4 linked regions of the Homo sapiens genome follow. The protein of the gene in region 2 purifies or fractionates together with the protein of the main gene of each other region. This does not show direct contact. Each region holds a gene or a part of one and is shown on either strand. Other genes may lie near its edges. The genes, in order: EPS8L1, ABI1, NHSL3 and CYFIP2.

The links.
Region 1: the proteins of ABI1 (region 2) and EPS8L1 purify together in Homo sapiens (co-immunoprecipitation; 4 studies listed by BioGRID and IntAct, with this or other methods). This does not show direct contact.
Region 3: the proteins of ABI1 (region 2) and NHSL3 purify together in Homo sapiens (affinity purification with mass spectrometry; 3 studies listed by BioGRID and IntAct, with this or other methods). This does not show direct contact.
Region 4: the proteins of ABI1 (region 2) and CYFIP2 purify together in Homo sapiens (co-immunoprecipitation; 4 studies listed by BioGRID and IntAct, with this or other methods). This does not show direct contact.

What each region holds. Positions count from the first base shown.
Region 1 is NC_000019.10:55,078,850-55,085,872, reverse strand, and holds part of EPS8L1 (epidermal growth factor receptor kinase substrate 8-like protein 1), read right to left. Parts: intron 6,875-7,023; coding exon 6,816-6,874; intron 6,184-6,815; coding exon 6,022-6,183; intron 5,745-6,021; coding exon 5,595-5,744; intron 5,493-5,594; exon of another isoform or gene 5,380-5,492; coding exon of another isoform or gene 5,332-5,379; intron 5,102-5,331; coding exon 5,019-5,101; intron 4,643-5,018; coding exon 4,381-4,642; intron 4,101-4,380; coding exon 3,974-4,100; intron 3,782-3,973; coding exon 3,693-3,781; intron 3,599-3,692; coding exon 3,524-3,598; intron 3,420-3,523; coding exon 3,271-3,419; intron 2,496-3,270; coding exon 2,354-2,495; coding exon of another isoform or gene 2,258-2,353; coding exon 2,229-2,257; intron 2,107-2,228; coding exon of another isoform or gene 2,091-2,106; exon of another isoform or gene 1,631-2,090; intron 155-1,630; coding exon of another isoform or gene 115-154; exon of another isoform or gene 33-114; coding exon 1-32. UniProt on the Homo sapiens protein: Stimulates guanine exchange activity of SOS1. May play a role in membrane ruffling and remodeling of the actin cytoskeleton.
Region 2 is NC_000010.11:26,746,088-26,752,973, forward strand, and holds the end of ABI1 (abl interactor 1), read right to left. Parts: intron 5,697-6,886; coding exon 5,511-5,696; intron 2,659-5,510; coding exon 2,483-2,658; 3' UTR 509-2,482; downstream 1-508. Other genes in the region: all trans-polyprenyl-diphosphate synthase PDSS1, read left to right, coding at 246-386. UniProt on the Homo sapiens protein: May act in negative regulation of cell growth and transformation by interacting with nonreceptor tyrosine kinases ABL1 and/or ABL2. May play a role in regulation of EGF-induced Erk pathway activation. Involved in cytoskeletal reorganization and EGFR signaling.
Region 3 is NC_000001.11:32,737,267-32,744,840, forward strand, and holds the start of NHSL3 (NHS-like protein 3), read left to right. Parts: upstream 1-4,563; 5' UTR 4,564-4,688; coding exon 4,689-4,923; intron 4,924-7,574. UniProt on the Homo sapiens protein: Able to directly activate the TNF-NFkappaB signaling pathway.
Region 4 is NC_000005.10:157,269,114-157,276,136, reverse strand, and holds part of CYFIP2 (cytoplasmic FMR1-interacting protein 2), read right to left. Parts: intron 6,814-7,023; exon of another isoform or gene 6,554-6,813; intron 1-6,553. UniProt on the Homo sapiens protein: Involved in T-cell adhesion and p53/TP53-dependent induction of apoptosis. Does not bind RNA. As component of the WAVE1 complex, required for BDNF-NTRK2 endocytic trafficking and signaling from early endosomes.

The sequences.
Region 1 (7,023 bases), on a different chromosome or scaffold from region 2:
GAGGCTCAGATTCTGGCTCCAAGTCTCGGTGACTGAGGAGAAGCGGGAGGGTTGGAGATAAGGAGGCAGCCAGCCCCATTGCTCTGGGCTGCAGGGTGCTGGTGTGAGCTGGGGTTAGAGCCAAGCTGGGGGCACAGCAGGGGCCGGGTTAATACTGTTAATAGAAATTTGAAACAAGAATAACAGACTGAATATATTTGCTCCCTCCGTTGCTTGGCATTGTGCTGTAGGCATATGTAGTGGGTACTATCCCACCATCGATTCCATTTTACAGAGGAGAATGAGGCTCAGAGCGAGAAAATGACTTGCCCACATCACACAGCTAGAAACAGCTGTCATTTATTGAGCATCTAATAGGCACTGGGCTTTATATATCATAACTCATAAGCATAATAAAAACACTAGCTAGGCCGGGCGCGGTGGCTCACGCCTGTAATCCCAGCGCTTTGGGAGGCTGAGGCGGGCAGATCATGAGGTCAAGAGATCAAGACCATCCTGGCCAACATGGTGAAACCCTGTCTCTACTAAAAAATACCCAAATTAGCTGGGCGTGGTGGCACGCGCCTGTAGTCCCAGCTATTCTGGAGGCTGAGGCAGGAGAATTGCTTGAACCTGGCAGGCAGAAGTTGCAGTGAGCTGAGATCTCACCACTGCACTCCAGCCTGATGACAGAGTGAGACTGTCTCAAAAAACAATAGCTACCACTTCTGTACCACTTACTGTGTGCTGGGCACTGTTCTGTTACGTATATTAGTTAATTTGATCTTTATGACAACGGTTGGTAGAACCATGAATTTGGACTCCCCTCTCTCCCCCAGTTTCTTCCTCCCCCAGAGACCCTATGATCTCCTCCATTTTCACAGAGGAGGAAGCTGAGGCACAGGGATGTAAAGGTCACAGAGTAAGAGAGTGGCATCGCCAGCCCGGGACCAGGGTAGCCCAGGTCTGAATAATGCTGCCTTAGTTTGCAGGCAGCTGGACTTGAACTTGAACCTGGTCACAGCCTTAAGCCCTTAACTGCTAGTTCCTACAACACCACAGACTTCTCACTGTTCCGGGAACGGATAATCATTATTCCCAGTTTCCCTGCAAAAAAGAACTTGAGGCTCGGAGAAAGTGACTTGAAGCTGTGAACAGGGACCAGGGTTGCGATATCAGGCAGCTGGGGGCAGGGGTGGGATTTCAGCTCTGACCCCCAATAAGAGGGACCTCAGCCTGGATCAGGCCTACCTGTGCAGGGGAGAGGGGGGGTCTTCAGGGCCGCGGCACCCCCTGTGTGGGGCCGGCAGCTCCCAGCACGCTGTCCCTGCTGAGACCCTCTGCTCGGGCCCTCACCCAGACCCCCCTTTGTCTCCTCCAGCCTCACTGCTTTGTTTTCGTCTCCTCCCACGTTGCTTCCCTCCAGTCTGCCCTCTATTTGCTCAAGGACCCTAGAGTTCTAGTCCATCTACCTCCTTCCCTCCCCCAGGACCCAGAGTCTGAGCCCCCACTGCTTGGTAGAACCATGACTTGGAATGTTCTTTCCTCCCCCAGGGACCTAGGAGTCCAGGTCTCAAGCTTCAATCTTATCCTTTTAACCCTCAAACCTTTTAACCCAGTCCGACACCCAGCAGCGACTTAGACAATTGCATTAGAGCCTCTGGAAAACCAAGAGTTTAATCGTCCAGCCTTTACCCCTCTCGGGGGCCCAGAGATACTACCACTTCCTAACTTTCCCAGAAACTTGCCCCCAAGCCCTTGAAGTCCCAAGCCTGCTCCTCTGGGTCTCCAGGATCCCAAGCACCAGACTTGGGCTCTTCTTCAAAACCCAAAGGTCCAATTCCCCAGCCTCTCCCCTCCAATATCCAGGGCTCTGTCCTCCTAGGGAGCCCAGGCATGGTGCTTCCCAGGCCCTGGGAAAACAAACTGGCTTCTTCCAGCCTTTTGGGGATCCAGGGATCCAACCTCTCAGACTTTACCCACTCCCAGCCCCCTTCCTCCCTTAGGCCCAGGAATCCGGGTCTCCATTCCCAACTCCCTTAGCCCCAGAAGTCTGGGTCCCGCCCCCTCCCACCCTGCTCCTCCCTCTCTCCCAGCCCCGGCCCGCCCCATCACCATCTCACCCACCTGAGAAGAGCCAGGAAGACAGAAGGAAAAACACAGAAAAAAAGGGGGCGGAGTCAGCATCGGGAGCCCCCGGGACGCACCCCTCCTTGACCCCCTTGCCCTGCCCTGGGGCGGACACTCACCCATTGACAGCGACCTGGGGGGCGCTTTGCTGTAGGAAGTAAGACAGTCGGGTCAGGCGGGGCCAGGCGGACCGGCCGCGCCCCCGGACTTCCCAGCCTCGGCCCTGCTGTGTCGCTTGGGTCACCTGCCGGCGCCTCCGCTCGTGCTGTAGCTGTTTCTCAACTGGGTCCTCCCAGGCGCGGCTCTGCGGGTCAGTGACCGGCGGCTCCCAGCCGCTGAAGAACTCGGGTCTGTATGGGGGTCCCTCCTCCGGGGACAGCTCCAGCCTGCGGCCAGGGACAGGGCCAAGAGCTCAGGGATCCTGATACAGCCCCCAACTTCGTTCCTGCATTAACTTCACTAAGTTTTCCCCTAAAGCTCGCTGTATTCCAACGATTCTAGCCCCGCCACTTTTCACCAAGTCCTGCCGGTAGCTCTAAGCCCAACTCAACAGCAATTTATATTTCTAGACCGGGCACGGTGGCTCACGCCTGTAATCCCAGCATTTTGGGAGGCCAAGATGGGAGGATCGCTTGAGGCCAGGAGTTCCAGACCAGCCTGGGCAAAATATTGAGACCCCATCCATCTCTCTCTCTGGAAAAAAATTGCCTTATCCAGCCTCTAAATCTCACCTGATTCCAAATCAGGTTTTCCGTAAGGTCGGTTTCAGGTTCTGACCCTTTCCCTGCGGAACTGCCAGCCCGCAGTGCACAGACTCTGTCCCATCACCAAAGTTATAGACCAAACCTTCCAGAAGCCCCGCCCCTTCGCGTAGCCCCGCCCCTGCCCCGTAGCCCCTAGCCCCTCTATTCCTTTAAGCCCCCCTTTTCTTTCAATCCGATTGGTCTGGTGGTCTTAAATCTTTCCTTCACGTTAATTCCTGGCCTTTCCTCCAATTGAATCTTGGCATCTGTCCTAAGCCCCGCCCCAACACAACTAAGCCACGCCTCTAACCCCTCCCTACTCTCCTAGTCCTATTTTCCAATCATCATGCCACCCACCTCCCAGCGCCTTATGCTCCTCCAATCACCATGCCCCCTGCCTCCCAGCCCCGCCCCTCACCCGGGGCGGGTCCACGAGTCCCCCAGCGAGGTCCAGAGCTCGTTTTCACGTGGAGTGACGTTGTCCCGCAGCAGCGCCACGGCATCCGATGTCAGATGCGGCCGCCGCACACTGCTCGCGAACTCCGGCCCCCCCGACGTGTTCACAATCTGTCAGGGGAGCAGGAGGGGCAGGCTGTGCCGCCACACCTTCTACAAGTCGAACCCGATTCCTCCCGCTGCAGGGGGGCCCGAGGGCCTGGGGCGGGTCTCACCATCTGCAGAGGCCCGAAAAGGAAGTGCAACAGCTCCGGAGAGGAGGGGTCGGCGATGTTGCCGCGCAGCCGGGCCTGGGGCGTGGGGAGGGAGGTGGTTGGCGTGGGTGCGGGGACGGGACAGGTTCGTCGTGCCCGCGCCCCGGCCCAGGGGCGGGCGCGTCCTCACCAGCAGGCTGAAGGCGTACTTGATCTTCTGCAGCACGTCGGTGTACTCGGCCTCCGAGGGCGGCTTGGCCCGCAGCGTCAGCAAGCCCTCTGAGGGGAGCAGACGGGCGCGGCGATGGGGACGCGGGGCCAGCACCAGGCAGGCAGAGAGAGGTGGACACCCGGTTAAGATGGCGGTGAGGTCAGCCCTGGCAAGTGGCGGGAGGGGAGAGCCTGGGGAGAGCGGGGACATTTGGAAGAGATCGGGAGGGGGTTCAGATCCCACGCCAGGGTGCCCCTTACCCCCAGCCGCCCGGCGCCGGCTCCTGCGGCCGCGTTCCCGGTGCTCCAGCACCCTGGCCGCCTCCGCCGACTTCTGCAGCCTCGATACAAAGCTCTCTACGTCGTCGAACACGTGGTTCAGGATGTCCTAGGGGACAGAGGAGGGGGACGCTCAGGGCTCCCGAGTTCCAAAACCATCCCCGTCGAAGCCCTGAACCTGAGCACCTATACACTTCCCCAGATCAGGCCACGCCCCAAACACCTGGCCACGCCCCACAACCAAGCCCCGCCCCCGACCCAGCCCCTCTTCCATAACGCAGAAGTCTGACCAGAGAACGCCCGTCCCGCAGCCGGCCCCGCCCTTCCACGCCCTAGCCCCGCCTCCAGTCGCCTGGCCCTGCCCCCAGACCCCTTCCTTAGCGGCTCACCACTTCCCGCTCCGCCTGCAGAACCGCCAGGTCAGGACCCCGGGGACCCAGGTCCGGGGAGGCCGAGTCAGCGTTGCTCGAGGTCCCCACCGGCTCAGGCCTCTGCGCCTCCTCTGCCTCGGGAATGGGCTTCGCCTGGGGTCGTCCGCGGCCCGCGCCCCGCTCTACGGTGCTGATCACTGCGCGGACTGACGGGCGGCGCTGCAGGGGCGGGGTCTCAGCGGCGGGCGAGCGGTCGCGCTGCAACTCCTCCTGCGTGGCCCTGCGGAGGGCGACGGGGACACCAAGACTGGGTCCACTGAGGGGTCCAGGGAGGGGGAAATCCAGGGCGCAGAACGAGACACACAGGCTCAAAAGGCTCAAAGGGAGTGAACAAGTTCAACGAGGTAGGGAGAAATCCGATATACGGAGGGATAGCACCTCTCTAGAGTGAAACTGAGGGCCTGGACAGGGAACAGAGAAAAGAAGCAGAGTTCTGGAGAAGGGGTCAGCTCGTCTGGGAGGTACAGACAAGACTCGACTAGGGTGTGCTTGACTCCATGCAAAACTCTTGTTCTGTTCCAGGCTGGTGTTGTAGACTGAGGCACAAGGAGGGGAAACCGGCTTCCCAGAGACCCTGCCAACTTCTTCCCTCTCACCTGAGCGCCGCCGCCCTGCGCTCCCCGCGGCCCGAGCGGTAATTGTGCAGAGCCCCCTGGATGTCCTCTCGGATCAGCTCCGCCTGCCAATCACACCGTCAGGCCACGCCTCCCCACGCCGCACCCACTTCCTACCCGGGCCTCGCCCCTGGCCGATTTTTCAGCTCAGTCCCAGCCCACGTGCGGCTACCGTTCACACCTGTGAACCCACGCACGTCCACGCCCCGAACTCACCCCTCGCCCTACACCTGTCCCTGCCCTAAGCCACGACCCCGCCCATGGAGACCCAGTCCGGGTGGTTCCTCGCCCCCACCTCGTCCTGGCTGCTCCCCCAGATCCTTCTTGGCCATGTTCTGTTCATGTCCTCATCCCACCTTCATGTTCTATCTTGACCCTGGGTCCAATCTCAAACCCCACTGCCTTCCAGAACTTCCTTCCCAGGTCCCCTGCCCTTCCTTGCTCTGATCCCGCCTTAGCCCCAGGCCCCGCCCCACCTAGAGGCCCCACCCATTTCCGCCCCGGCTCCAGGCTCCGCCCAGTTCCAGCTCCACCCCCAGAGCCAGCCCATCTGCTCACCCCGAGGCGCAGGCCCTGGAAGAAGTGCACGTCGGGCTGCGCGCGCTCGGGTTCCTGGCACACGAGCAGCAGCAACGAGCGGCTCCTGCCGGGTGGCATCACCGCGTCACAGCGCACGATGGCGCCCAGTGGGTACGACTCCAGCTCCTCCTGCCGGGTGGGATGGCGGGGTAAACTGAGGCCCCGAAATGATGGTACTACTAAATGGCGACGGGAGTGTGGGCCAGCAGGTCAGGGCAACCTCAGGCGGTTAGGGGGTTAGGGATAACAGCCCTGTTTAATAGATGAGGCTATTAAGGCTCAAGAAGGGGGCTGGGGTCCCTCGCCAGAGTTCCCAGAGGAAGGACGTGCAGGAGCCAAGATTCACACCCAGACCCCCTGAAGTCCCTGCCCCAGACACTCCTCCCACCCACGTGCCCCCCGGCACCTTGGAGGCCGGGTCGAGCAGCGTGACATGGTCGGGAGACACTCGCAGCAGCATCTCCTGTGCCCAGACTCGGCCCTGGCTATCCATGACGGCCAACTTCCTGGAGGCATCCTCCACGGTATGCACGCCATCGTCCTCACCCAGGCAGAACGTCACCAGGTGCTGGTACGGACCATGGAGAAAGCAGTGAGGCCCAAGATGATGCCAGGTGGGCTCAGAATCCCCCAGAATAATCAGACTTTCAGCCTGAGACTAACCACACCTCCTCCAGGAAGCCTTCCTTGATCACCTGTTCCACAAATCAGCTCCTCCTCCCAGTGCCCTTTGTTTCCCTTTCATCAGAGTGACTAGCACCTGAGTCTGGCTTCTCACAGACTGGAGGCTCCTTGCGGGCAGGGAAGGAGTCTGGATTATAGCTCTCTCCTTCTAAATGCCTCCTCGGGTCTCCTGCCATGCCCCCTGCCACCTCCATTAGAGCACCAGGCGCCTCTGTGGATTCCTCTGGACCTTGTCTACCCCTTCCTCATGCAGGGCTGTGTCTTGATTTGCCTCCGTGGTCCCACTGTCCAGCACAACAGCTGGCCTGGAGGAAAGGCTGGCAGATTAAGTGGACCCGAGGCCCCTGGCTTCATATCCATGACTGAGGTGAGGCAACGGAGGTCCATTTTATGGATGGGCAAACTGACTTTCCACATGCTTCCTGCTTGGGGGCCTAGCTGCTTTCAAAAGCCCTATCTCCTGAGGCCACCTTTGCCCCAGAAGATGTCCTGGGGGAACACAGACCCCAGACTCACATTGACTGGGTACTGGGATACATCAGCCATAACAACTGTGGAGTAACGCTTCCTCTGCTCTGCCAGGGGAGAAAGAGAATGAGCCTGGGAGTCCAGGCCCAGCCCCTCCTCCATCAGACCCAGGAGTCCAGGCCCCCAGCCCCTCCTCCCTCAAACCTAGGAGTCCAGCCCCCCAGCCCCTCTTCCCTCTGACCCAGGAGTCCAGGCC
Region 2 (6,886 bases):
AATATTGATGAGCTAGTTGCTTTGCATGCTAATAGAATAAAAATTTGCTTCAATATGAGAAAAAGGCCTAAAGGAAGTTAGCACTATGAGTCGGGAAAAGAACATTAGAGATGTAGTTTGACTGTTAACTGTAATCCTCAGCTCATCTGATCTCAAAACTATGTGTTCATTTATTATAGCAGGAAGTTAAAACGCTGATTCAGTCAGTGACAGGCATCTGTTCTGTTTTGTTCTGTATCTTATAGAGTGATGGTGTGCAACAAACAACCTACCTCGCCCAGCAGTACTGCCATGAAGCAATAAGAGAGATCAGTAAACTTCGACCATCCCCAGAAAGAGATGCCCTCATTCAGCTTTCAGAAATTGTACTCACAAGAGATAAATGACAACTCTTTCTGTTCTTTCTGGCAGCTATCTTACCAGACTGTGCCTAAAGAATTTTGTGGAATACACTTTGTTTGCTTCATGTGCAGATAACCAAAAATCATTTTAAAAGATATCAAACTTATTGATGGGCAATTTATTTTTTTTTATTGCAAAAGTTTTTTCAGAAAACTTTTTAAATGTAATTAATAAACCACCTGAATCTGTCATTCTAGTCCTATAAATTATAATCAAGGTATCTTGATGGTTATATGTGGTATTGTTTACACTGTTAATATCCACATGTAAGGCCATTACACAAATAAATAACCAATGTTAAAATTCAAATGGTTTGTCTTGATTTACCGTAGGAGTAAAGGTCAGAAAAATGTGAAGTCTGCATTGAAGTCCACATGAGTTATATTTTAACAGTATCCAAAATTTCATATAGGAGAATGGTTTATTATAAAAGACTGTACATAAAATTTAGACAACAGGTTATATACAAATTAAGAGAACAATCCACTTGAAAAATGGAAAGTAGAAGGTAGCTAGCTGATCACTAATGATACTTTGTTTGTTTAAAATTAACAAAGGCAAAATGCATATGAAATAGTCACATTGATTTGGTAGCAATAATGGTCTTTAATTTTCAGAAATAACTGTTTTGCACTAGTCTTACCATTCACTATGCTGTTATAAGTCTGTAGCATCCAGTACATAACTGTAATTTGAATTCCAAACAAATCCTCAATAACACAGAAACCCACACTTGAGTGCTCTACTTTAATATCCTAAGCAATAGAGAATTATACACAAGACAAGAAGAGAAAACATCCCTCAGCCCTCCCTTCAATTAAGAGGAGACACACAAAGTGCATGTGTTGCATTTTGATTATGTCAAAAGACAATCCAAGTCTGTTGGTTAGGTAAATCTCTGTTCACTGATTAATACATGACCCACCTTCTTTCCCAATTATTTTATTTTAAAATTCTAATGTTGCTAGTGCCAGGTAATGGATTAAAGAGTGCCTACTCACAAATCAACTGTATCCACTTTTACAATATGTAAAAGGTACTTTTAACTTCCTTTCATTGAACCAGTGTACAACAGTTCACTGTACAACTGAAGGACTGACATGGCAATCCTTAAGAATTTTACCTACAGAATGAATGCACACAATTTGACACATTTTCTTAGTTTCAAAAGATTATTTAAAAAAGGAATTCAGTAGATTGACTTGTAAATAACCATTGCAGATTTTGAATCTGCAAAAATCCGTCACATTGCTGTTGGGACAGATTAAGATAAGGCTAAAATTTTTTTCCAAGTTAACATATTGAGAAAATAGAATCATAATTCTGCAATAAATCATTATCTTTTATTTTTTTTAAAGCAAATCAGTGAAGGAAAGGACAAAAACCTTTGGTTCACTTATGTATTTATGAATGGAAAAAGTTTATAATGCAAATTTCACTCATTAAAAAACTTAGGTACAAATTACAACATTACAGATAATTCTCTTTTTGCTTGTTTCACATGGAGACCTTGGAGACTCAATTCACGTTAAGACACCTAAGTACGAGTCCTCCAGGTAAATATTACACAAATGGGAAGCATCTTGAATTTTTAAGTATATTTCAATACATAAATTTTTATGCATGCTTTAAACAAACAGTATTTTTTTTAAATGAGAGAATCTAACAAAAAAAGTCTGACCAGCACCAGCATTTAAATTTTCTGATTTTAATATTAGTCTGACATAGCGTTAGTAACCATGCTGCACTGAAACATGTAATGGTACAATCTGAATCATGATTCGTTAAATATTATACCCCACTTCCCCCAGAATATTTAGGCTGGTCATAAAGTTAAAAATGTGTAAGTAAGTACATAAGCATAATCAGTTATGGACAGCTTCTTGTATAAATTGCTATTCAGCAATACATAAACTGCCTCAAAGATTTATGCTTACAGGTAGACATTCAATTTACCAATAAAACAGCATGTTCTGAAAATATGGGCACATTTTAAAACATATTAAGACAGTTCTGTTAACCATAATAGTCCCACAGTATGACTGAGTAATAAGAATCTACTTCAAAAGAAAAAAAAAAATTAATCAGTATAGTGCATGATTGATTCAACATAGTTCCCAGGGAACAGACCAGTCACTCGATTGCAGACTCCTTCATACCAGCCATCATCATTCTTCTTTATAACATAAATGATTGCACCCTCCATAAATGACAGCTCATCATCCTTGTCTTTTGTATAATCATATATTGCAACAACTATGGAAAAAACAGTTGAAATATCACATGAGTGCACTATATCCAAAATTTACTTGAATTTTAAGACAAAGACAATTAAATATATAGCACAGCAAAACTATTTTTATGAAGATTTCTTAATTTTTGTATCTATCAATATAAGTAGGTCAGTGGCCAACCATGTACTTAAATCATTGGCTTAATCTTAGAGCCAAATGACAATCTGATTAGACTGAATACATCAATAGGTTCTGTCAATCACTTTAAGAAAGCTCTCTGAATTTTAGAATTTATTAGATGTTTCAATTCATTCAAATACCAAGTGCCTATCATATGCAAAGCACCGGCTTTTCAAAATAATTATCAGGCAAAGAAAGCTGCATAGCCATTCAGTAAACCAGGTAACAATCCAAGCTATCTAATTTGAAAAAACACAGTTACTGGAAGGTAAATCACATCCTACTCATTCAAGGACCCATGCTAATTTAAGGGACTGTCCCCAGATTTTTTTTTAAAGAATATTTACTTACTTTAAAGGATTTTAATTAATACTTAGAGAACTTTGCAATTCTGTGGTGTCTGTAATTTTTTCAGTTCAAGATACAGGTTGAGTAACCCTTATCTGAAATGCCTGGGATCAGAACTGCTTTGGATTTGGGATTTTCAGATTTTGGAATTTTACATATGCGTAATGAGACATCTTGGAGATGGGACCCAAGTCTAAACACAAAACTCATTTTTGTTTCACATACACCTTATACACATAGTCTGAAGGTAATTTTATTTTTCCCTTGGGAACACTGAATAAACTGTGTCATGTGCCTGCATTTTGATTGTGACCCATCACGTGAGGTCAGGTGTGGAATTTTCCACTTGCGGCATCATGTTGGAACTCATTTTGGATTTTGGAGCATTTTGAATTTGGGACTTTCAGATAGGGATGCTTAGCCTATATTCACTTCCTTTGCAAACTGCTATGGAAAGAGAAAGTAATCCAAAATGTATAAAATGGCCCATGGACAAATCCAAACCACGCAATTTTTGTAAATAAAGGTTTATTGCAATATGGCCACATCTACTTACTCATGTATTGTCTATGTCTGCTTTTACGCTACAATAGCAGGACTGAGTAGTTGTGACAGAGACTGTATAGCCAGCAAAGTTTAAAATATTTACTATCTGGCTTTATACCAAACAAAGTGTGCTCACCCCTAGTTCTTGGGAATATACTTTTTAATCCTCCTCTACTATCAAATATATTACCCAATATATCATTCCAAATTTGTCAACTTATATAAATATGGTCCCATTTTCACAGTTAATTGGCTTCACCAAGTAAGAAAATATGGGTAAAAACACAATTCAAGGTCACTCAAGTTTATCATCCTCGTAAGTAACAACAGCTCTCTATTTGAAGGTATATGGGAATCTCAAGTAGAATATTCAAGACTTTCTTAACAATATGTAAATTACTTACTGTTTAAAAATATAAGGCCACGCTCGGCTCATGCCGGTAATCCCAGCACAGGGAGGCTGAGATGGGCGGATCACTTGAGGTCAGGAGTTCAAGACCAGCCTGGCCAACATGGCAAAACCCCATCTCTACTAAAAATACAAAAGTTAGCTGGGCGTGGTGGCGGGCACCTGTAATCCCAGCTACTTAAGAGGCTGAGGCAGGAGAATTGCTGGAACCTGGGAGGCGGAAGTTGCAGTGAGCCGAGATTGCACCACTGCACTCCAGCCTGGGAGACAGAGCAAGACTCCATCTCAAAAAATAAAAAAATATAAAAGGAAAACAAATTTACTTTTGCCACATATCCAAAACTTGGGCAGGAAAGAATGCTGCTGGTCTCAAGAGCTACATCTACTAGCTTAAAGTCCGTTAACCCAGTAAAGTCAATAGAAGGAAATATATTTCAAAGGCAACCAAAAGTGTTCAACTAAATCACAAGCATTTTTCAGAACTCTATAGAAATACAGATTTTATTTTTAATTGATTCCCACTTCTGCAAAAAGAAATACAGATTTTAAAATAGCACAGAACTGGATGAAAAAATAAAAACTAGAAACAGGATTTGTTTCTTCCCCACCTATATTTCTTAATAGATAATTATAGTGAATATCGGGTACTATAGGTAAATTAGACTTTAGAGTAGTTCATAATTTCATGAAATACAATCCTGATAATTTCTCTTGTGTTTTATAAAATCACCTAATTGAAACCTTAATTGAGGCTTTTCTCATGATAGTACTAATATATTTTTAAAGACCGATGCTCCTCCACTTACATACAATGGGGTTATGTCCCAATAAACCCACTGTTTAGTGGAAAATATTGTAAATTGAAAGTACATTTTCAACTTGTATTTTTTTTACTTATAACAGGTTTATCCAGACAAAGCTCCATCATAAGTTGAGAAGCATACTGAATGCATATCATTTTTGTACCATCATAAAGTTGAAAAGATCCTAAAGTGAACCATCATAAATCAGGGACCGTCCATATTTAGATATGAAAGGTAATCAATAGAGCTTGACAGAACTTTTAAAATCTTTACTAATTACATATAACTCCATTTTTGTGCCTTAGCTGTTTCATCTATAAAATGCCGTCCAGCAAGTTAATCTTCAGCTGAACGCATATGTAGTTTGAAAGCAAATCTAACACTGCAACTTTTATTTAAAATACAAAGAAAGAATCCCCCTGTACACTGGGAATAATACAAAACTTAGGAAGTAAGGTTTAAGTAAATCATCTTGGTTGGTAAGGCAGTTTAAAAGGCTGAGAAACATTGGATTAGATGTTCTTTATAGTTCTAAATTTCTACAATTAGGTTATTTTCCTTCACATCAACTCAATGACTGTACCTTACCTTTCTCAATATAATTCTTGGGGGCCCAAGCAGGATCCCCATCTGCATATGGATCATTATACTGAACTACTGCAGCCTCCTCATCTTCATAATCCACTGGTGGTGGTGGTGGGGGAGGTGGAGAGTCATCAAACATGGGAATGTCATCTGGTGGAGGTGGTGGCGGTGGAGTTGGACTATCAGCAACTAAAAAGATTCATATGATTGATTTGAATCAAAAATAAGTCTAGATGGAAACTTATAAGTTAACAGAATTTAAGAAAGCTCTAACTTAAGTACAGCATGCACTATAATAAAACATGCAATGATTAGAAATAAAAGCTTGGTGTGTTAAAGTTTATGCTACTCAAGAATCATTTAAAAATAACAAAATGAGCTAAAAATAAGGGTATCTGGAAGTACTACAAATTAATGAATGCAGGGTGTTAGGAGACAATGTCTCTTTTTATAAGGATTATAGGAGTAGTTTCCTTATTCCAAGGTTCAGATCGGGACAAATGTTAACAATCTAAAATAAATCTATGTCACTTTTGTCATTTGGACTGCAGTAATGATATGAGTAACATTACGTTAATGGTTTGATCACTCTTCACTCTGCTCATTCATGCCCCTGATTTTGGCTTGAAACAGCTTTGGTTCCCTAAAAATTCAGTCTCCTGTGGACAGATTTTTGTTTCTTTGTTGATTATTGTTTGTTTTGATGAAGAGAAAAGTAAAGTTGGTAGTATTAGGTCTGCTTCTGTGTGCAGATTTTCTACTCTGTTATTTACATTTTACAAGTTGAAAAAATGGAAAAAGAATCCCCAACCAGTAGAAAATCTAATTGAGTATTTTTAAAAAGGTTTATATTCATAATTAGTTTTTTAATGTAGAAAGCAAGCTAAAATTTTGCATTATTGCTAGTAAAACATAAGCACGGGATGAGGGAAAGCCTAGATCCTAAAGATTCGATTTTCTAAGAATACATCAACAATTAAGATTTAAACATAAAGTGTTGAAGATGTAATTAAAAAAAACAAACAAAAAGGAACTTACAGTAAACAAAACAATAAAAATGACTCATACCTCAAACTCTAGATGGTCGTGGTCAGTATATATGTGTGTGCTTTACACAGTCAAAGGTGTAAACAGGGAAATGGGAAAATGTCAGGCTAGAGCTCTGTTCAATGAACTAGTATAATATCAGGTAAAAATGCTCCTAAAATTTAAAGAATTCAAAGCTGGAACCCAATTAATGCTTAACTTAAATTTCTGATCAATAAATTTCTTTAAAAGTTCAAAAGACATATGAAAATGTTTTCATACAAATTGATACAGGAATTACATAATTCCTGCAGGGGAGAAGTTCATAATACAAACATACTAAATCAAATGCC
Region 3 (7,574 bases), on a different chromosome or scaffold from region 2:
AGAGGACAAAGCTGGCTCCTGTGGAAGGCAGGTCTCCCAAGTGGAAAGGGGGATTGGTGTGTGTGAGGGCAACATCAGGGTGGTCCTGGGCTTTCCCCAAACAGAGGGGCAAAGTTGGAGGGCCCTTAGGATGCTGCCCCAAGCCTGGTTTTTGCTGGTTCCTCCCTGGGGACAGGCTGGAAGTTTCCTTCCTGGTCAGGTGACAGCCTGGCTCCAGGTTGAACTTTGGGCCCTATCCACAGGGACTGCTGGGAAGTCAGCTCCCTCCGCTGCCTGCAAGGCCAGCAAAGACATGTAGCTGAGCTGAGCAATCATTATTCCAGGGAGCCGGATCCAGCTACAGCTGAGACACAGGCTAGCTCTTCCTAGGCTAGCCCTCCCTGGGTGGCTCAGAAGCATGTCTGTCCTTTAGGCCAGGGGGCAAGAGGGAGAGCTGGGCCTGCTGGTCTGAAGGTGGTCCGGGCTGGGGATGAGAAGTGAGAGTCTCTGGGTGCTGGAGTCAGGAGCAGTGAAGGGAATATAACCCTGAACTCTCCTCATTTCCCTTCTTCCTCTCCCTACCTGCAAATCAGAGGATCCAATCTGTGGGTTGATTCCTGGAAATTCTAGTTTGAGGGGAATTTCCCTGAGGAATTATATGAGACACTGGCAGGGCTATCTTCAGAGGCATGCAAACTGTGTAGTTATGCATAGCCCATGCTCAGAAAGGCTCTGTGCTTGGTTGAATGTTTTGCTGTTGCCTCTTTTTTTTTGAGACAGAATCTTGCTCTGTCGCCCAGGCTGGAGTGCAGTGGCACAGTCTCGGCTCACTGCAACCTCCACCTCCCGGGTTCAAGCAATTCTCTGCCTCAGCCTCCCAGGTAGATGGGATTACAGGCACCCGCCACTATGCCCGGCTAATTTTTGTATTTTTTTTTTTTTTTGGGATGGAGTTTCGCTCTTGTTGCCCAGGCTGGAGGGCAATGGCACGATCTAGGCTCACTGCAACCTCTACCTCCCAGGTTCAAGCGATTCTCCTGCTCAGCCTCCAGAGTAGCTGGGACTACAGGCATGCGCCACTATGTCTGGCTAATTTTTGTATTTTTAGTAGAGACAGGGTTTCTCCATGTTGGTCAGGCTGGTCTCGAGCTCCCGACCTCAGGTGATCCGCCTGCCTCAGCCTCCCAAAGTGCGGGGATTACAGGTGTGAGCCACTGCACCTGGCCTAATTTTTGTATTTTTAGTTGAGACGGGGTTTTACCATGTTGGCCAGGGTGGTCTCGATCTCCTGACCTCATGATCCGCCCTCTTTGGCCTCCCAAAGTACTGGAATTACAGACGTGAGCCACCGTGCCCGGCATTTTTATTTTTGAGACGGAGTTTTGTTCTTATTTTCCAGCCTGGAGTGCAGTGGCACCATCTCGGCTCACTATAACCTCTGCCTTCTGGGTTCAAGCGTTTCTCCTGCCTCAGCCTCCCGAGCAGCTGGGACCACAGACAAGCACCACCATGCCTTGCTAGTTTTTTTGTATTTTTATTTATTTTATTGAGACGGAGTTTTACTCGTCGCCCAGGCTGGAGTGCAATGGCATGATCTCGGCTCACTGCAACCTCCACCTCCCGGGTTCAAGTGATTCTCCTGCCGCAGCTTCCTGAGTAGCTGGGATTATAGGCGCCTGCCAGCAAGCCTGGCTAATTTTTTTTTTTTTTTTTTTTGAGATGGAGTCTCACACTGTCACCGGGGCTGGAGTGCAATGGCGTGATCTTGGCTCACTGCAAACTCCGCCTCCTGGGTTCAAGTGATTCTCCTGCCTCAGCCTCTCGAGTATCTGGGATTACAGGCGCTTGCCACCTTGCCTGGCTAATTTTTGTATTTTTAGTAGAGACGGGGTTTCACTATGTTGGCCAGGCTGGTCTCAAACTCCTGACCTTGTGATCCACCTGCCTCGGCTTCCCAAAGTGCCAGGACTACAGGCGTGAGTCACCTTGCCCGGCCTGCTATTGCCTCTTGAAATTCTTTTTTTAAAAGACAAAGTCAGGCCAGGCACAGTGGCTCACGCCTGTAATCCCAGCACTTTGGGAGGCCGAGGCGCGTGGGTCACCTGAGGTCAGGAGTTCGAGACCAGCCTGACCAATATGGCGAAACCCCGTCTCTACTAAAAATACAAAAATTAGCCAGGCGTGGTGGCGGGCGCCTGTAGTCCCAGCTACTCAGGAGGCTGAGGCAGGAGAATCGCTTGAACCCGGGAGGTGGAGGTTACAGTGAACCGAGATTGTGCCACTGCACTCCAGCCTGGGCGACAGAGCAAGACTCAGTCTCAAACAAACAAACAAACAAACAACAACAACAACAAAAAGACAAGATTTCACTCTGTTTCGCAGGCTGCAGTTCAGTGGCGCGAACATGGCTCACTATAGCCTTGACCTCCTGGGCTCAAGGGATCCTCCCACCTCAGCCTCCCGAGTGAGTAGCTAGGACCACAGGCACTTGTCACCACACCTGGCTAATGAAAAACAATTTTTTTTTTGGAGAGATGAGCTCTTACCATGTTGCCCAAGGCTGGTCTCGAACTCCTAGGCTCAAGCAATCCTCCCACCTTGGCCTTCCAAAGTGTTGGGATTACAGACATGAGCCACTGTGGCAGGCCTTGAAATTCTTAATAAGTTTTTTTTTTTTTTTTTTTTTTTTTTTTTTGAGACAGAGTCTCGCTCTGTCACCCAGGCTGGAGTGCAATGGTGCAATTTTGGCTCACTGCAACCTCCGCCTACCGGGTTCAAGCAATTCGCCTGCCTTAGTCTCCCAAGTAGCTGGGACTACAGGCATGCACCACCACACCCAGCTAAGTTTTTGTATTTAGTAGAGACCGGGTTTCACCATGTTGGTCTGGCTGGTCTTAAACTCCTGACCTCAGGTGATCCATTTGCCTGGGCCTCCCAAAGTGCTGGGAATACAGGCCTGAGCCACCATGCCTGGCACCTGTAACACTTTTCTCTTGAAAACTGCATTCTCTACATTCCCTTTCCTCACCAACTAACAGAGGAAGAGGCTGGGTTCTTAGGAGTGCTAGGCTGGGCCAAGAGCACCCAGAGTACAGGGCTGGTTCCTGATCCAGAATGGGTGCTCTGGGATTGTGGGCTGGATCTGAATGAATGGTGGTTAGACAAGAAACTGAGGCCCAGCATGGACACTGGGTGGTCTGCCCCAGGGCCCCCAGGTGGGAGAGTGTCAATGATGTCCCAGGTTCACCACAGCTGAGCCCCTGGGGACATGCAGGGGGCTAAGGCAGGTTAGGGAGATCCCACTGCACTCTAGTAATCCTGCAATGTTATGGTGAGTGCTATCTACAGTGCGCCGGGGCTGACTGGGCTGGGTGGCCCAGACAAATGGGCCCCTGCCCTCGTGGAGACCAGGACCAAGAGAAAGCCGTGTGACCAGAGTCAGATTGGGTGATTCTGGCCACCCCACTGGTATGGACATCACAAGGCCCTTCTGGGGACTGACGGAGGAGGTTCAAGGGTGCTGAACCCACAGCTGGTCCCCAGCGCAATTTCTAGTCCTTAGGGTTTGAAGCCTTGGACCAGCCTGAGACAAAACCCAGATGACCATCTTGGCTCCTCTCCCGCTGACCACCTCTGTCCCCTTCTGGCCTCCATTTCCGTTGTCGTGGGATCAGATGATATAAAAGGGCTTGGTCAGCTGTAATAGACCCAGAGGCCTGTAGGCAATGAGTACAGCAATTTCAGGATTCTTAATGTTTCCTTTCCTACCAGCCTCCCAGTCACACCTCTCACCTGCCCAGAGTTCAACCCTAATTAGTGTTGAGCATCTCAGTGGGAACTCCTGGTCCAGGCAGGAGTGCCCTGGGGCCTCAAATCCTAGTCCAAGGGTAAACGGAGGAAGGGCTATCCTCATCTTGCCACCAAAGGGTGAGGCAGGAACACAGTGGACCTGGGCCCCCGCTGCACACCGAAGATGGTTGGAGCCTGGAAGGTGTGGTAAAGAGCGAGGAGGCGACCCCAGTCAGCAGATGGGAGGGAAATGCCCACTGCGGGTCACAGGTCTTGGACGTGTCTGAAGCCTCTATTCCTGGCGCAAGCGCCCCAACACTGTCGGGGCTTGGAAGGAATTCTCCAAATTCCCTTATTCCAGGAAAAAATATTCCAGAATCCCCTGTCTATTCCCAGCCCAAACTTGGGATACCAAGTCTCCTGGGGTCCAACCCCAGCCTCTCGCTCCTCCTTTCCTGCGCCCTTCCCCTTTCCGTCCCCACCCCATACCACCCTCTTCCGAACAGATCTCCCGCGGTGCCCCCTGCGGGACGGAACCTCAGTGCCGCCCCCTCCCGGGCGGCCCCACGACCCGCCCTCTCGGGCCCCAGCGGGGGGCACGACCCCGGGCTCCCGGGACCCCCTCCTCTCGGGACTGGACCTCGCCCTCCGCCGGGACCGGGGGAGGCGGGGAGGGGCCGCAGGCAGCGGCGCTCCCGCCCTGCGGCCGCTCCCGCCCCGCTCCTTCCCTCCCCGCCGGCCTGCGCCCCGCCCGCCGCTCGGCCGGCCCCTCCCGCGCCGCTCCCGCCGTCCGCTCTCCGCGCCCGCTCGGCCTCCGCCGCCCAAACTTTTCTCCGGGCGCGCGTCCCCGGCGGCCGCCCCCGGCATGGGCACCGCGCCGCAGGGGGCCTGACCCGCCGCCCGCTCCGCCCCCGCCTGCCATGGCGGCCCGCGCGCCCCCCGCCGCACCTGCGGCCGAGGAGCCGGGGAACCCGGGCGGCCCCCCGCGCAGGAAGAAGTCCCGCTCCGGCGCGTCCGGCCTCCGCCGCGCCTTCAGCTGGCTGCGGGGCAAGCGGCGCAAGAAGAAGGCGGCGGGGGCCGAGGGCGCCGAACCGGCCGCCCCCCGGGCCAAGAAGGCGGAGGACAAGGCCAAGAGGGCCAAGGGCAAAGGCCGAGGTAAGGCGGTCGGCACCTGGGCTGAGCGCGGGGGGGCGTCGAGGGTGCGGCCGAGGGGGCTCTGCCGGGGGTCCGCGCGCGGCGTGTTGGAGGGGGGTGACCCCCAGGAGCTGGTGCTGGAAAGCGAAGAGGCCAGGGCTGAGTCCGAACACTTCCACCCTGCGCTGCCTTCCGCAGTTTCCAGACCCAGTCCTGCCCCGCTGTGAGGGGAGGGGACCCCCGGCTGGGGCAGGGATCCCCTGGCAGAGCAGGAAGTGCTGGTAGCCCGACTCCAGGGCGGTGAGGCGATTCCCCCTCCCCCAGGCTCACCGAGGTTCTGCCCTCTGCTGAGTCAGGGGGTCAGAGACTTAACGCTGGCCTGTGGCCAATGGGAGAGACAGGTGGCCTTGGGTCTCTGGTGGGGACCCTCTGGGTCTGGAAGGTCAACCGCACTCACAAAGAGTTTCAGCTCCAGCTGGATCTGGATTTCCAGCCCCACAAAGGACCTCACATGGAGCACAGTGTGCCCTGCCTTAGCTTCTTAACAGTGCTGGCTTTTCCCACCTGGCCTCCCTCAACGCTCACCTGGGCCAGGCCACAAACATCACCTCCTGGGGTAGTGAGCTCACCAAGGTGAACCAACCCGCCCCTCCCTATCACTCCTTCTTCCAGCCCTGGAGAAACATGCCAGTGTCGGAAGTGTGCTTACAGATGGGGGAAACTGAGGCCCAAGCTCAGTGGAGAGGCTGTACCTGGGCTGGGGTGGGTACTTAAAATTCAACAGCTAATTCTCAGTCTTTCTGAATTTGAGTCCCTGGGCTCCTCCTCTGGCCTGGACGGGCAGCCTGAAAGGCGGGGAAGCCGACCTGGCCCATCCCTGCTGGGGTCATTTTCAGTTCCTTTCTTGGGCCTTCCCTCATTTTCCAGTTTCTGTCTTCCTTTTGATGGGGAGGGCTTGAGTCTTTGCAAGAGGGTGGAGCTCCCTTGGGGCTTGCTGTCCTGGGAAGTCCACCTTTCCTAGACTGCTGCTGCAGTGCTGGAGGTGAGGAAATGGCTGGGTGTGCGGGCCCATCCCATTCTGCCTGTGTTTACCCTCCCAGTGTCCTTTAACCACCTCTTCTGGGAGAGTTAGAAGGAACACTTTAGGGGTCAGGAAGAGGGTGGAAAGCCTCATGTGTGATTGTATCCGGCTTGATCTTCCTTTTGGATAAGGGCCCTGCTTCCCTGCGGCACAGCCACACATAGAAGTGAGGGTGCTGGGGCTGGGGTGACTGGGCCAAACCCTGAGGGAGGACTGGATTTGGGTGAGGGGTGTTTCCAAAGCCTCTGCAGTCCTAACAGGACATGGAGTCTGTCCCAGGGCTGCCCCACTGGGATTCAGTCTGAAGTCATCCCCGTCTCATTCAAGAGGGCATTGCAGCAGGATGTATTGTGGTCAGACTGTCAGGATTGGCAGGCAGAAGGCTAGTGGACTAGCAGTGTATACTCCAGGGCAATGGACCTTTTTCCTCTGGGAGACCAGCCTGGAAGGCAGGGGGCTGGAAAAGCTGAGCCTGTAGGTCACTGCTCCAACAGCCTGGGTTTGGGTTCATTGGGTCAGTGGCCAGGCCTCCCTCTTGCCTTGTGTTTGGTATCAGGTGGCTCTGGGCTTTCTGGGCAGCATGTCGGCCTGATTTGAGCCCACGTGCATGGGTAACACCTCCTTGCCCCTGGCTGTTGTTTCTCCAGGTCTGGAGGTGGCCCTGGGTATGACTGGAGGAAGTCCTGTTCCCTTTTACTCCAGCCTCCTATTATTGCAACTGTTTCCTTGTCACCTGCCTGGCCCAACTTCTTTTCTGTTTATTAAGAGAAATAAATCTGATCCCACTAATCTCCACTGGCAACGCTGGCCAGGAACGGGAAGCCTGCAGAAGGCTTAACTCTTTCAGGGAGAATGTTCAGAATGGAGATTGGGAGAGGTGGGGAGGAGGGATACACAGGAGATTCCTGGGAGGTCAGGGATCTTTGCTGGGGAAGTCATTATCTCCTCCATTCCAATCTCTGGCTCAAAGACCTATGAGAGGCAGGTCTTGATTCCTCTAATCTGACTCTCCTACTTTAAGATGGAAAAACTGAGCTTGTCATGGAGTTTTGAGCACCAGTCTTCCATGATTCCCTTGCTGACCTCACTACCCTGCACAAACTTAGAAGAAGAGAGGAAGTCTGACATTTATTGATTAGTCTGAATATGTCAAGATCTTACTTGCAGATGAAAAAATTGAGGCTCAGGGACAGTGAGTGACTGATTTGACCAAACGGATTTAAACTCAAATCACCTGCCTCAAAAATCGGGACTGTTTTCATGACTCTCCCAAGGACATAGAGCAGCAGGTAAGGCTTGAAGATCTTCTTGTTCAACTCACTTTACAGATGGGAAATGGCCCAGAGAGAGAAGTGAGGGAACTTGATAGAGTGGGGAGAGTATCAGAATCAGGCCAATGAGAGTTTAAATCCTGGCCCAGCTACTAGCAAGCCCCATGATGTAGGATGAGCAACTTCTCAGTGGGCTCCCTGATTCCACCACTGTCTTGTGGGGAAGAAAGGGGGAATCCTCTGGCTGGACATTGCCTTGATGGGCTGTGACCTTTCTGTCTCACCAAGATTCTCACAAGAGAGCATATGAAAATTATATT
Region 4 (7,023 bases), on a different chromosome or scaffold from region 2:
TAAAAGACATCTAGATTAGAAAGGAAAAAGTAAAACTATTCCTATTTGCAGATAACATAGTCTTGTTATAGAAAATCCAAGAAAAATCCACTAAAAACTATTGAAAGTCATAAACAAGTTCAGCAAGTTTGTAGGATACAATATCAGCATATAAAAATCAGTAGTATCTCTATATACCAGCAATGCACAATATGAAAATAAAATGGAGAAAACAGTTCTATTTATAGTAGCATCAAAAATAATACAATACTTAGAAATAAACTTAACAAAATAAGTACAAAACATACACTCTGAAAGCAATAAAACCTTGTTGAAAATATTAAAGACCTAAATAAATAAAAAGATATCCCATGTCCATAGGTTGGAAGGCTTAATATTGTTAACACGGCAATACTGCCCAAACTAACCTACAGATTCAACATAATCTCTATGAAAATCTCATCTGGTTTCTTTGCAGAAATTGACAAGCTGATCCTAAAATTCATATGGAAATTCAAGGGACTCACTCAGGATAATCAAGACAATCTTGGGGGTGGGAGGAACTGAACAAAAATGGAAGACTCACACTTCCTGATTTCAAAACATACTCAAAACTACAGTAATCAAAATTGTGTGGTGTTACCATGAAGACAATGAACAATGATTAAATTAATGGAATTGAACTGAGAATCCAGAAATAAATCCTCACATTTATGGTCAATTGACAAGAGATGTAGAAAGAATATTCTTTTCAACAAATGATTCTAGGACAACTGGATACCCACATGCAAAATTTGTTTTATGGTGTGAGGTATAAATAATGTAATATATAATAAATTAACTCAAAATGGATCAAAGATCTATGTAAGAGCTAAAACTATAAAACTCATAAGAGTACATCTTTGTGACCTTGAATTATGTAATAACAACAAAAACACAAGCAACAAAATAAAAAATAAACTAAACATCAAAATAAAAAAAATTGTGCTTCAAAGGACGCCATCAAGAAAGTAAGTCCACAGAATAGAAGAAAATATTTGCAAATCATGTATTTGCTAAGTATATAAAATATGTAAATAATTCTTGGCTGGGCACAGTGGCTCATGCCTGTAATCCTAGTACTTTGGGAGGTTGATGGGAGAATCGCTTAAGCCAGGAGTTCAAGACCAGCCTGGGCAACAGAGTGATACCCTGTTTCTACAAAAAAATTTTTTTAAATAAAAATAAATTTAAAAAATGAATTCTTAAAACTCATTAATAAAGAGAACCTGATTTTAAAAATAGGCAAGGAACAGATTTTTCTCCAAAGATATACACATAGCCAATAAGCACACAGAAAGATTAATAACCTTAGTTATTAGGGAAATGCAAATCGATACCACTTCACACCCACTAGGATGGCTATAATGAAAAGGACAGACAATAACAAGTGTTGGCAAGGATGTGGAGAAACTGAGAATACCGTTGCTAATGGGAATGTAAGATGGTGCCGCAACTTTGGAAAATCGATTGGTATTTCCTCAAATTTTTAAACACACAGTTACCATTTGACCCAGCAATTCTACTCCTAGGCATACACCCAAGAGAAATGAAAATACAGGTCCACACAAAAACTTGTACATGGATGTTCATGGCACCATTATTTGTAATAGCTAAAAAGCAGAACTAACATATGCATCAACTGATAAATAAAAAATTGTATAGCCACATGGAGTATTTTTCAGCCATAAAAAGTAATTAAGTACTGATATTGATACAACATGAATAAACTTTGACAATATTATGCTAAGTGAAAGAAGCGAATCATTAAAGACCCCGTATTGTATTGTTCCATTTATTAAACATGCCCAGAATAGGCAAATCTATGGTTGCCAAGGGGTGGGGTTGGGGGAAATAGGTGGTGGTGCTAAAGGCCATGAGATTTCTTTTTGGGGTGCTAAAATGCTCTAAAACTGACTACGATTATGGGTTGTACAACTCTGTGAATATATTAAAAACCACTGAACGGTTTTTTTTTTTTTTTTTTTTACACAGAGTTTCACTCTTGTTCCCCAGGCTGGAGTGCAATGGCATGATCTCACTCACTGCAACCTCTGCCGGGTTCAAACGATTCTCCTGCCTCAGCCTCCCGAGTAGCTGGAATTACAGGCACCTGCCACCATGCCTGGCTAATTTTTGTATTTTCAGTAGAGACAGGGTTTTGCCATGTTGGCCAGGCTGGTCTCAAACTCCTGACCTCAGGTGATCCACCCACCTTGACCTCCCAAAGTGCTGGGGTTACAGACATGAGCCACCATGCCTGCCCTGAACTATATTTTTTAAATGAGTGAATTGTACAGTATGCAAACTATATTTCAATAAAGCTGCTACCAAAAGTTAGTATTTTTATAACTACTTTTTGGGAAACTTTGAGTGTAACATAAGCAGAAGGGGTACAAAGAGAGCTGGGGGTAGAGTAGGAGCTTGGGGAGTTTGGGGACTGTAAATGATGCCCCTACAAGCAGAGGCTGTGGAGAGCAAAAACCAACGGGGATAGCAGGGGAGGAAAAGAGTAATAGATACAACCATACCACCCCACAGAGCAGCCCCCTAAACTGCAGGGGTGAACTAGACCATACAGGGCAGGCCCAGCTAGCTTGTTTGTTCCCTCCCCCTGCCCCTGCCTGTTTTGGTTTCTCTGCCATCTGTCAGGTCCTGGGGCTGCCCCACCCTGGAGTAAAGACTTCTCAGATAATATTAACTGAGGAGTAATAATATTACTGCCTGTGAGGTGGGTGGGGTGATAGGTTCTGAGGTTTAGAATGAGAACAAGAAGGGAGCCTAGCTCTCTTTCTACTGATGAGGAAACCAAGGCTCAGAAAAGAGAAGGGACTTGTGCAAGGTCACTGGGCTAGTTAGGGGTGGAGCTAGGGTTAACACTGCACTTCCTGAGAAGACAAGGGACTGCAATAGAATAACTCATATGACACAGAGCTTTAAAAGAAAAGGACAGGGCCAGGCACAGTGGCTCGTGCCTGTAATCCCAGCACTTTGGGAGGCCGAGGCAGGTGGATCACCTGAGATCAGGAGTTCAAGACCAGCCTGACCAACATGGTGAAACCCCATTTCCACTAAAATTAAAAAATTACCCAGGTGTCATAGCACACGCCTGTAATCCCAGCTACTCGGGAGGCTGAGGCAGGAGAATCGCTTGAACCTGGGAGGCAGAGGTTGCAGTGAGCTGAGATCACGCCACTGCACTCCAGCTTGGGGAACAAGAGTGAAACTCCATCTCAAAATAAATAAATAGATAAATAAAAAGACAAGTATTGCAACAAAAATTCTGCAGCGAAATGAAAAGCCCTCTAAGAAAGGAAATATAATCAAAGGACTTTACTTGGCTGTCTGTGATCATCATTTATATATATTAATAATGTAGACACTTTAAACCTGATTTAGGTTAAAATAGAGCTCTTCCTATCTTGAGAGACGGGGGCAGGGGAGGGAGGGAGATGGTGTAAGAAAGTGAAATCTCCATCCATCACAGCAGGAAGTAAATAGACAACGTGCAGAATAGATAAATCGAGAAACAGCAGTGTAAGCATATCATTTAGAGATCTGGAGGCAGCTACTAGAAGAAACAGTGAGTTAAAAGTGGCAGCCTCTAGGGGAGGGTGGGTGCTGGATGGTTGTTTTTCATTATAAGGCTTTCAATACTATTTGATTTTTTAAAACATTTGTATATATCGTTTTGATCAAAATTTAATAATTTGCTTTAGAAGACAACCACCCAAAGTCTCCTTGTTAGCAGTTCAGACACCTGGCCGGTACCCAGCACTGACTGGCAAGGTGGTCTTTGTTGTTTCAGTCCCCTGCTCCTGTCCTCCGGGACCAGAGGCCCTATCACCTACAGCTTCTCTCCACACAGGGGACCTGCAGTCAGAGCCGAGAAATCAAGTCAGCCTCGACTTGGGCCACTGGAGAAGGCCTATCCTCCTCGTTGTTTATGAGTAGACTGAGTAGACAGAGAAAAAGATCTTGGTGGGGGCTAAAGGACTTTCCCCTTCGTTTGCCATTTTGCCCAGCTGCTTCCTGTGTTGTTAAGGTTGAGGTGGCCTTTGTGGTGACACCAAACCAGGCTACCAGCAGCTCAGGGGAACGGCCTCATGCTCTCAGGAGGGGAAGTCATGCCACCAAGGTGGCTTGCTGATTTGCTCCTGCTGGGGCCCTGGGGCTGTCATATGAGGAACACCAACATGACGCGTATGTGGGGAGAGGAGCTGCCTCTCAGATGCACCTGCTAAAACTCACAAGGGAAGCCATGCATCTGCTACGGAAACAAAGAGGAGGGCTTCAGGTCTGGCCACCAGATCGGAGCACGTGGAACTCAGCTCCATCGATGTGAAACCACAACTCGAACATGGCTCAGTATGAAGACAAAGGCCCCCAAATCACATTTTCACTCACTCTAAAAGGGCAAATTTCTCTGTCTGTAAAATGTGGAGGTTAGCCTTGGTTCTCTCTCAACCATGATGTCCAAACCTGCCTTGTGAAGGTTATTGCGGGTAACTTGTGCTAATAATAGCTTAAGCACTGAGGTTTGCAAACAAGGTACATTTTATTGTATGTGAGGCGAGGGTTCAAGATCTCTGTGTGATATTATTGCTTGCATGTTCATCTCTTCCCTTGAGTGGCAGGAATGGAGCAGAGTTGGGGGGTTGGCTGTGGGGGCTGATGTGTTCAGCATGTCAACATTGTCCATTTTGTGTACTAAAAAAACCACAACAGCAACCAGTTAAGAATCACTGGATTTGGGCCTCTCTCAGGACCCTCCCAACACTAAAGCAAATGACCATGACTACAGTTGAGACATTCCATCCAAAGGGCTTCCTTAAAGACATGTGTTAAGGATCATGCAGACCATTCTCTGTGGCCAAGGTATACAGGGCATAATAAACCTGTCCAAGGATACTCTTCCTTTGTGCCTTTGCTCAAACTGTCTCCACTCCCTTATGGACTGTCTTCTTCCCTTCTCAAATCTTACCGATCTATCATGGCCCACACGAAGACATGCCTTTTCCACAAAGGTCTGACCAGCCAAGCCCCTTAATGACCTTTATTTCTCTCACTCCCTTAGCACTCACAGTCTAGAGTCCACAGTTTTTAACTGCACGACAAACTGCTTTATATTTCACTAATTCTTTGGATTGCTAAGAATGCCAAGGATAGTCATCTTATCTGAGTTTGACCCATAGCAACCAGCACAGAGATAGGCACACACCAGGAATTACTTGCTTAATTAATACTTCATGAATGATTTGTTGACTGCATGAGCCAATGACCAAAATTCTTAACTTCTGGTTTAAAAAAATTAACAAGAAAGTTAAAATATCATGCTTCTCTAAGGTCCCATATCCAAGGCTGCCTTGTCAATATAAGAATCTGAGGAGAGTTCTTTAGAAAATCCTTCTGTCGTATAGTTTCCACTTCAAACCCTAAGAAGCAGGTCCTCATTTCTCTTTCCCATATGGAAGTATAACAGACTTGGAGATAGGGGGCTGACCTCTAGTTCTGAATTCTTATCTTGCCATTCATATCTTGCCAAAACAAATCTTAAAGCATCATATTTTAAAAGCACAAATCAAAAATAGTTCTCGGATATTCCTTAAGAGTTACTGCATGTCTTCTCTGAGGGTCAGCCCTGCAAATTCTCTTTGATCTCAGCCAGGCCTTCAGTGAAGTTAGACAATTCTCTCATTCTTCCCCAGTTTATTTCTTATTCCACCCACATAGGCAACTGTTCCAAACCCTGAAGTCTCCTGAAGTTTCCTAACCAGTCCATCACCTTTATTTCCTGCAGAGGACCTCACCTCCTGCCTTACTTAGAAAACAGAGAACATGGACAGACTAAACACACCTCTGTTTTACCTAGAGATTAAAGCCTAAGAACCATTGCTCTACAATGACCAAATAATGACGCAAACAGAATCAAAAGGTCTACTGATGAAGTCATCACTGGGTCTTTCTCAGGCATCTCGCAAGAAGGTCCTATTTACTTCCCTCTCTCACTGCCTGTATCTGAGTTGCCCAAAGTCTATCAAAATGCCACGCAACCAGAATGATCCCTGCAAGAAATTCTGCCTGAACTCAAGCTCTGCCTTCTCAAAACAATTTCTTTCAAGAATTTGCACCCTCTGTTGCCAGGGCCCAAGTATGGCTTAAATGGCTATTTTTTGAGGTACATCACACACAGCCCTTAGCATAATGCCCATGGCTAGAAAGCCAATATCTAAGCTCTTTGCATCCTGGGAGGCGTCCCATACCCACTGACTGAATTCTGAAGTGTCTTTGTACAGACAAGGCCATCCAGGGGCCTTGACAGAATCTGTGAATCACAAAGTGCCTTTAAGCTTCCCATTGGCTCAACAGTACAGAGAGGCCACAGATCCATCTTCTTAAAGTGACACACAATATATAATTAATAAATTGTTTCTTAAGGAATGGAGGGCATTTACCCAAAAGAGTCACACATTCAGGAGGCTCCTTCTCTATTTCCACGGCTTTTTTTTCTCAGACTGGGATTTACAGACATTACCTCATCCGCAGGCTTTCATGATGACAGGCAGGTAACAGTTGGGCAGGCTGCCTTCCATTGCTCAATTTTGAACGTCAGAGAGGTAGTGGCTGGTTTAAGGGCACACAGCAAGTCAGGGATCCTGTGTCCCATGCTCACTGTGCTGCTCTGTCTGCCCTGGAAGCAAAGCATGCCCTCAACATTTTTGGATGGTTGCAAAATGCTGAATTCTCACAGAGGAAGAGGCCCTTCCTTAACTCTACGTGTTGAAATGTGAGAATGGCCCTGGGCTTCTGCTTGGCTTGTTCCCTCCCACTTCTCCCTACCTACTCAGGTTCCACCCACCTCTCTTGTGCTACTTAAGAGCACTTCCCACCTGAAGCCTTTCACTTCATGCCCTATCACTCTTAACTTTCCCTTCCTTCGGCCGGTAAACTTGGGGCTGGGTTTACTGGTCACAGAGACCAACTTCCCTCAAAAAAGCAAAATTC